2 linked regions of the Homo sapiens genome follow. The protein of the gene in region 2 purifies or fractionates together with the protein of the main gene of each other region. This does not show direct contact. Each region holds a gene or a part of one and is shown on either strand. Other genes may lie near its edges.

The links.
Region 1: the proteins of RTCA (region 2) and COPB2 purify together in Homo sapiens (co-immunoprecipitation; one large-scale study listed by IntAct). This does not show direct contact.

What each region holds. Positions count from the first base shown.
Region 1 is NC_000003.12:139,358,496-139,362,147, forward strand, and holds part of COPB2 (coatomer subunit beta'), read right to left. Parts: intron 2,801-3,652; coding exon 2,586-2,800; intron 868-2,585; coding exon 775-867; intron 684-774; coding exon 503-683; intron 318-502; coding exon 249-317; intron 1-248. UniProt on the Homo sapiens protein: The coatomer is a cytosolic protein complex that binds to dilysine motifs and reversibly associates with Golgi non-clathrin-coated vesicles, which further mediate biosynthetic protein transport from the ER, via the Golgi up to the trans Golgi network.
Region 2 is NC_000001.11:100,276,145-100,279,796, reverse strand, and holds part of RTCA (RNA 3'-terminal phosphate cyclase), read right to left. Parts: intron 2,540-3,652; coding exon 2,481-2,539; intron 1-2,480.

The DNA.
Region 1 (3,652 bases), on a different chromosome or scaffold from region 2:
GTGAAACCCTGTCTCTAATAAAAATACAAAAAAATTAGCCGGACCGGTGATGGGCGCCTGTAATTACCCCAGCTACTCGGGAGGCTGAGGCAGGAGAATGGCGTGAACCCGGGAGACAGAGCTTGCAGTGAGCCTAGATCGCGCCACTGCACTCCAGCCAGGGCAATGGAGCGAAACTCTGTCTCAAAAGAAAAAAAAAAAAAGTGAACCATCTCAGCCAAATTTATCACATGAAGTGCTCTACTGACCTGTTGAGCTGTAGATCTTGAGGGCTGAAAGTCTTTTCCCTCTTCCATGACATTTCTCTCTTCATTTGGCTATCAGAGAATAAAGCAATGATGAAATGAGATATTCTGAAATCATAATTTACCTATGAACTTGGCCTAAATCCCAGATATCAGCTCTTAATTTTAAAAGAAGACAGCAGTTCAAAATCTGAAGTCCTGAATGTACTTCCACCCTGTAGTTACAATAAATGAAGCTTGACATCCTGGCCACTCACCGTGACAAGTGGGTATTGTTTGGCTGGCCACAGATCAGCATGTGTTTCCTTCACCCATTCTTCAACAACAAAGGCTTCTTTTAATCCAGGGAACAGGTTTTCATACTCTGTTGGGTCAGCAAGGGATTCTGCTGCTTTCTGATTGACTTTTGAGAGATTCTCTCTCCAGAGTTTCACTACCCTATTATAGACATCATGGAACCAAAGAGAGACTAAGTAAATGTGCTCTCTTTTTATTGGAAACATTTCTTCCTAAAATTAAAAGTCTGTACCTTGAAACCTGACTGGGTAAGTAAGTTCGGGCCAAGAAGGCAGCTTCTGGCAGCCGTCCAGTTCTAATTAAGAGCTCTAGGCAGGCATCAACCCTAAACATTAAAAAGGAGAGGTACTGTTACCAAGAATAAACACTATAATAATGGGTACTTAACACAAAGTAAATTTAGTGTTACAAAGCCAAAAATCTCCCCAATCTTCACACATATATCTCATTTCTGTCACTTGTCTTTTAATGGTTGTTAATCAACACACTGCAAGGGTATGAGGGATAAGACAGCTTTCCTGACTACTTTGAATCTACTTAACTTAATTATTATAATTCCTAAGAACCTAAAGGGGCTTTTCAAGAGGAGTTAAGGCAGGTTAGATTAGCAAATTTTAAAGGCATAAGGATATATGCCAGCAGAAATTCAGTTCCACAAGACAAATATCTAGGGCAGTGTCTCCAACATGGGAAGGGCCAGACAAGCCAGTGGTGCCCAGCAGAATACCATGGTGTCTTATTTTTTCTTCTATTTTAATTTCATTTTTTTTCTGTGCAAGTTTTATGATGTGGACAATATGTTTCAGAATTCAGGATTTTTTGGATTTTCGAAAGGTGATACAGTATGTATACTATGTATTACCTTACATCCTCAGCATGAAAAAGCCACAAACATTAATACTGCAATAACTTACATAGGAATGTTAAATGCAATAAAAATGTACCAAGTTGGTATAAAAGCAACTAAAAATACTAAAGCAGTTCAGCTCAGGTCTTGCCATCAAAACAGTTATAACTGTTTTCAGAATATTTTTGGATTTTTGAATTATGGATAAGGAATAGGGTCTATTCTTACAGGTATATAAATTCATAAATACATTCACATACATACAATGGGGTGCACGTTCAAAGTTATATGGCGAAGTATGGGATTGTAAAAAAAAAAAAAAATCAGTATGTAGGAGAAGGTTAAAGAATACTTTCGGGCTGGGCGTGGTGGCTCACACCTATAATCCCAGCACTTTGGGAGGACGAGGCAGGCGGATCATTTGAGGTCAGGAGTTTGAGACCAGCCTGGCCAACATGGTGAGACCCCATCTCTATTAAAAACACAAGCCGGGTGTGGTGGCGCATGCCTGTAATCCCAGCTACTTGGGAGGCTAAGGCAGGAGAAGGGCTTGAACGAGGGAGACAGAGGCTGCAATTAGCCGAGATCATGCCACTGCACTCCAGCCTGGGCAACAGAGTGAGATTCCATCTCAAAAAAAAAAAAAAAAAAAGGAAAGAATACTTTTGTGTTTTATTTCATAATACTGCCAACTAATGTCCAAATGATTTGGTTTATGCTAACTCGGTTAGACTTAAAAATATGAGACATCTTTATGCTTTATAGTGGGCTCAAATCTACAAGTAAGTGGCATACTTATCCCCTTTTGTTCTTGCCATAAATGGATCAAAGTTATCCAATTTGGGTAAAATCACCTGCCCTTCAGGTACCTACTAGAGCAGCTCAATAGCCTCCTGCAATCATAAAATAAAATGCTTCCACCATTAACTGGCAGGGCTGTTGAAGAAGGTGTTTAACATTTCTCCCACTTGAGCCTCCCTGAACAGCTCATTTAGCTCAAACATTTAGATAGATGTGCTAAGGGCATCCCTTGCTGAAGGTGAGTGCCACCAAGGCAGCACTGTCCTGTTCTGACTGCCCCGTCTATTCAACACCATTTGGCCATTCATCAGTTCTCTCCAGGGTTCATTCTTCACTTCCCTCTCCAAAAACCATCCTCAGTGTAGAATTAATTAATCTTTTAAATTAATACTCACTTGCCCTGTAAAAAGTAGCTCATGAATGCCACATTATTTTTGCCATCTCTCTCCGCACCCTCTGCTAGCTTGTTCACCATATTAGCATTTCCAGAGGCAGTGGCCAAAAGCAGCAGGCCCCCATAATCCTGTGCATGATGCAGGCACTCCTGGGCTAGGCCAAACTGACATTTACTAATGGCAAGTTCAGCAAGTTGTTTCCACTTCTGTTCTGACTGTAAGAAAAGAGTTTCCAAGTTAAAATATCTTTAGAAATAAGCATTTACATTTCCAACATTATTCTGTTAACTGTGCAGACAATGTTTATAAAAAGAGCTGTGTTTGTTAAGTTGGCTCTATCAAAATAAGAATGGCATTGCAAAATGTACAGTGAGGAAATGGAAATTATTAATGTATACAAAATGAATTTAAACACAAATCAATTTTAATGATGTGCAAATAATTATCGTCAACCCATTATACTTTTATCTTATAATTACACAGGGAAAGTAAAACCATCTCACTGGAGTTTTAAGGCAATTAGACTGCAATTATTTTAACAAGTGATTTAATATCACTTTTTTGAAAGCATACAAAACTACGTCTTTAAATATTTCACAATAATATTATGTCTCACTTGTAGCTTTTCAGAACTCAAAATGCTGCATGTTTAGATGATCTTAACGTAGCTAAAATTTATTTTGCACATCTGAAATTAATTTACCAGTAAATGCCAGTCTGAAACAATTGGGAGCCTCAATATACAAAGATCTATAAAAATATCATTACAAAAATGGTATTAACATTTCTCCCACTTGAGCCTCCCTGAACAGCTCATTTAGCTCAAACATTTAGACCAGATGTGCTAAGAGCATCTGCTGCTGAAGGTGAGTGCCACCAAGGCAGCACTGTCCTTCTCTGACTGCCTGCTCTATTCAACACCAAAAGATGAGGGGGTTGGGCTGTCTTTCAAAACCAACATATTTTTAGTTAGTTTCAGACATTGGCAAATAACTGCTATGTCTGTACTCTTAGGCTTTCCAGACTAGTTTACATACTATTTTACATCTTTTCTTATCTTGCAAAAT
Region 2 (3,652 bases):
AGAACACTATTTTTTTGGTGACAGGGTCTCACTGTGTCACCCAGACTGGAATGCAGTGGTGCAATCATAGCTCATTGCAGCCTTGAACATCTTAGGATCAAGCAATCCTCCCGCTTCAGCCTCCTGAGCAGCTGGGACTATAGGTGTGAGCCACCATATGGGGCTACTTAAAAAAAAAAAAATTTTAAGAGATGGAATCTTGCCATGTTGGCCAGGCTGTTGTCAAACTCCTGGCTCAAGCAATCATCCTGCTTCAGCCTCCCGAGTAGCTTGGACTAAAGCTGCATGCCACCTCACCCAGAATACTTTTGTATGTCAAATTTCTTTGTCCTTCCTCCTTAGCTCTCACTTTTCTATCCAGCTAACTTCTATTTACCCACAGAACCCACTGGAGGACCATTAAATGGCAGAAGGCAGATTTGGTGTCAATCAGTCCCCAGAAGGATTCCCTTTGCTTCCCCTGTATTCCTATGGTACCCTGGGGATACCACTATCATAGAACTGGTCTGTTTCCTCTGCCAGAATAACCCAGGAGGCAGGAATCATAGCTGTCACTTTTGAATCCCTAGTACACAGTACCTGGCACATTTGGTAACCAGTAATACAAACAAACTCACACTTCTCCCAATGCCTGCTAAGTACTTATTACTTGTAATATGTCTGCTCCTAGTCTCCGTTTTATATTTGTATTCTCTTTGCTTCTAAAGACTGTTGTAGATAGTGCATGCAGTGGCTCAATATCCACACTGATTCCTCACTGCACCTAATATGTAATTAGTATATGCCAAATACATATTTTAGATCACTATTTCTCAAACTTCAGTATACATTAAAAGTACCTGGAAAGTTTGTTAAAATGGATTCCTGGGCCCCACTCCCACAGATTCTAATTCAATACGTCTGAGGTAGGTCCCAAAATCTGTATTTCTAACGAACTCCCAGTTGATGCTGACAAGTTTGCCTGTCTGCCAACCACATTTTGAATAGCACAGTTTTAGACAGAATTCATTTATGTGAGTTCAACTGGAAATGGTGATTTTATTTATTCTCTTGATCAGATTTGATGCCCAACTAGTTCTAGATTTACCAACTGAGCAAACTGAAGAATTCCTAATTTTTTTTGTATTCAGTAGTAATAGTGTGGCTTAACAGCATAGCTAGGGTAAACATTTTTATTTGTTTATTTATTTTGCAAAGACAAAGTCTCACTACATTGCCCAGGATAGTCTTGAACTTCTGGTCTCAGTAATCCTCCCACCTCAGCCTCCCAAAGTGCTAGGATTACAGTTGTGTACCACTGTGCCCAGCTTGGTAAGCATTTTTAAAGATGCTACAAAGTAGGAATAAAGCAATCAATGACCACGCAAACAACTAGAAGTTCACCTAAAAGTTGCCTGATTGGTAAAAGTAACTTTAAATATTAACAAACACATGCATGTATGTATCTTCTCTCTCTAATATACCAAACCTTAAACAAATTTCCCTTTCACAAAAACATTCAAAATTCTGAAATCACCAATGTAATAACTGATGCAGAGAAGAATCATCAATAGATGTTAAAACCACTGGATGAAAGCTGTTATGGGTGCAGGATAACCAGATGGCCTCAAAATATTTTCTTGGATCACTAGTTAATTACAAAGGTAAAAGGAACTTTCATGGCAGACAGATCTGCAGGACACACCTCCTTAACCAAGTGATCACACTCAACCTCACCAATAAAGGAGAAACTAACATCATGTGCCCCCTGCCGTGATACAGTGGAATGTACACAAAATCACCTATGTAGTATTCTTAATAAAAATGTTTAATCTGAATATATCATGAGACAATCAGACAAATTTAAATTGTGGGAAACTCTGTGAGAAAATGGCCTGGACTCTTAAAAATGTCAGTATCATGAAATGAACAACAACAAAAAAGGTAATGGGAGGATTGTGTATTAAAAGAGGGACTAAAGAGACTTGAGAAACAAATGCTATGTGCCCCCCCCCAAAAAAAAAAATTCCACATCGCTCTAAATAATATTTTGGAAACAATTCATTATGTATGAAGCTATCTGGTGTGTCAGAATAAAACAAATTCTTCAGGTGTAAAAATGGTATTATAATTATGTAGTTATTGCTCTTTGGACATATATGCTGCAGTATTCAGGGGTGAGACATGGCACCTGCAACTTATATTGAAATGGCTCAGAAATATACACAACAAACTAAATGTTCATAACTAGTGAATCTAAGAGAAGGTTGTATGGATGACTAGTTGAACTAGTCATTCAACTTTTCCATAGGTTTGAAATTTTCCAAAGTATAAAGGTGGGAGAAAGACTGAAAGTCTGAAAGTGTAATTGACTCTAAAAGAGAATCAATTAACTACATCCTTTTAAACTTTCATCCATCATTCTATAACATTCCAATCCTGATGGATTAAAGAATTCTGCAGTAGCATTGGGAACTATGGACCCCCTTCATTTATCTTACCTCGTTTACCAAGCGATGATCCAGCAAACAAACAGCCAGTGGAGGTCTCAGCAATAATTCTATGCAAGAAAAAAAGTTATTACTACCTTTGCTATAAATGTTCCAAATTTATGCAAATACAACAAAAGAGAACAATGACTATTAAATAGGCAGAACTAAATCTGGGCAACAAATTGCAAAAGTAAAAATTCTTCATATAGAGTGGTATGATTAACATTGTCTATCTTAATCAGACCAGTAGTATCCTTTACCACTTGACCAGGAGAAGTCACACCAGATTCTAATTCACAGGTTAAGAAATGTCTACCATGCCCCCCAACAAGTTAACATGTCATTAGCACTAAGTGGTACCATTTCACAGGCACACAGTACTATAAAGTGTTTCAGAATTATCTTAAATAAAAAGGTCGTTATGCAGAGACTTTGGTATTGTTCTACGGTTTTTAGATAGTGTTATCATAAGTAGAGCAAGCGTTTACTTTAAACCTTTTAATGGAAATTCTGAATGAGAGGATTTGGAACTTAAATATCCAAAAATGGTACTTTTATACTTCAAAAACATCAGTTAAAGAATTTGTACTAATACTTAAATCTATAACTCCTAACTGAATTAACATAATAGTTCTAGTCTGGTTTTTTTTGAGATGGAGTCTCGCTTTGTCGCCAGGCTGGAGTGCAGTGGTGTGATCTCAGCTCACTGCAACATCCGCCTCCCAGGTTCAAGTGATTCTCCTGCCTCAGCCTCCCAAGTAGCTGGGACTACAGGTGTGCACCACCACGCCCAGCTAATTTTTGTATTTTTAGTAGAGACAGGGTTTCACCATGTTGGCCAGGATGATCTTGATCTCTTGACCTTGTGATCTGCCCGCCTCAGCCTCCCAAAGTGCTGGGATTACAGGTGTAAGCCACCGCGCCTGGCCTCTAGTCTGGTTTTAAAAAGCTCTTTGCTATATTTATTTGTGAACTGATTTCACATTTGACGTATTTTATGCAACTGGAAATATTCTCATAGGACTAGCTTTAAAGCCTAACTTCTGATTAAACGTTTAAGTTCACTATATAAGGGAAAGGGATCTTACAAGGTAACAAAAGGCAAGCCATCCTCAGAAAAAATTCAGAATAATTGTCTTAATTTATCATACTGGTGTTTTAGGTAGGAATGTCCTTAAAAA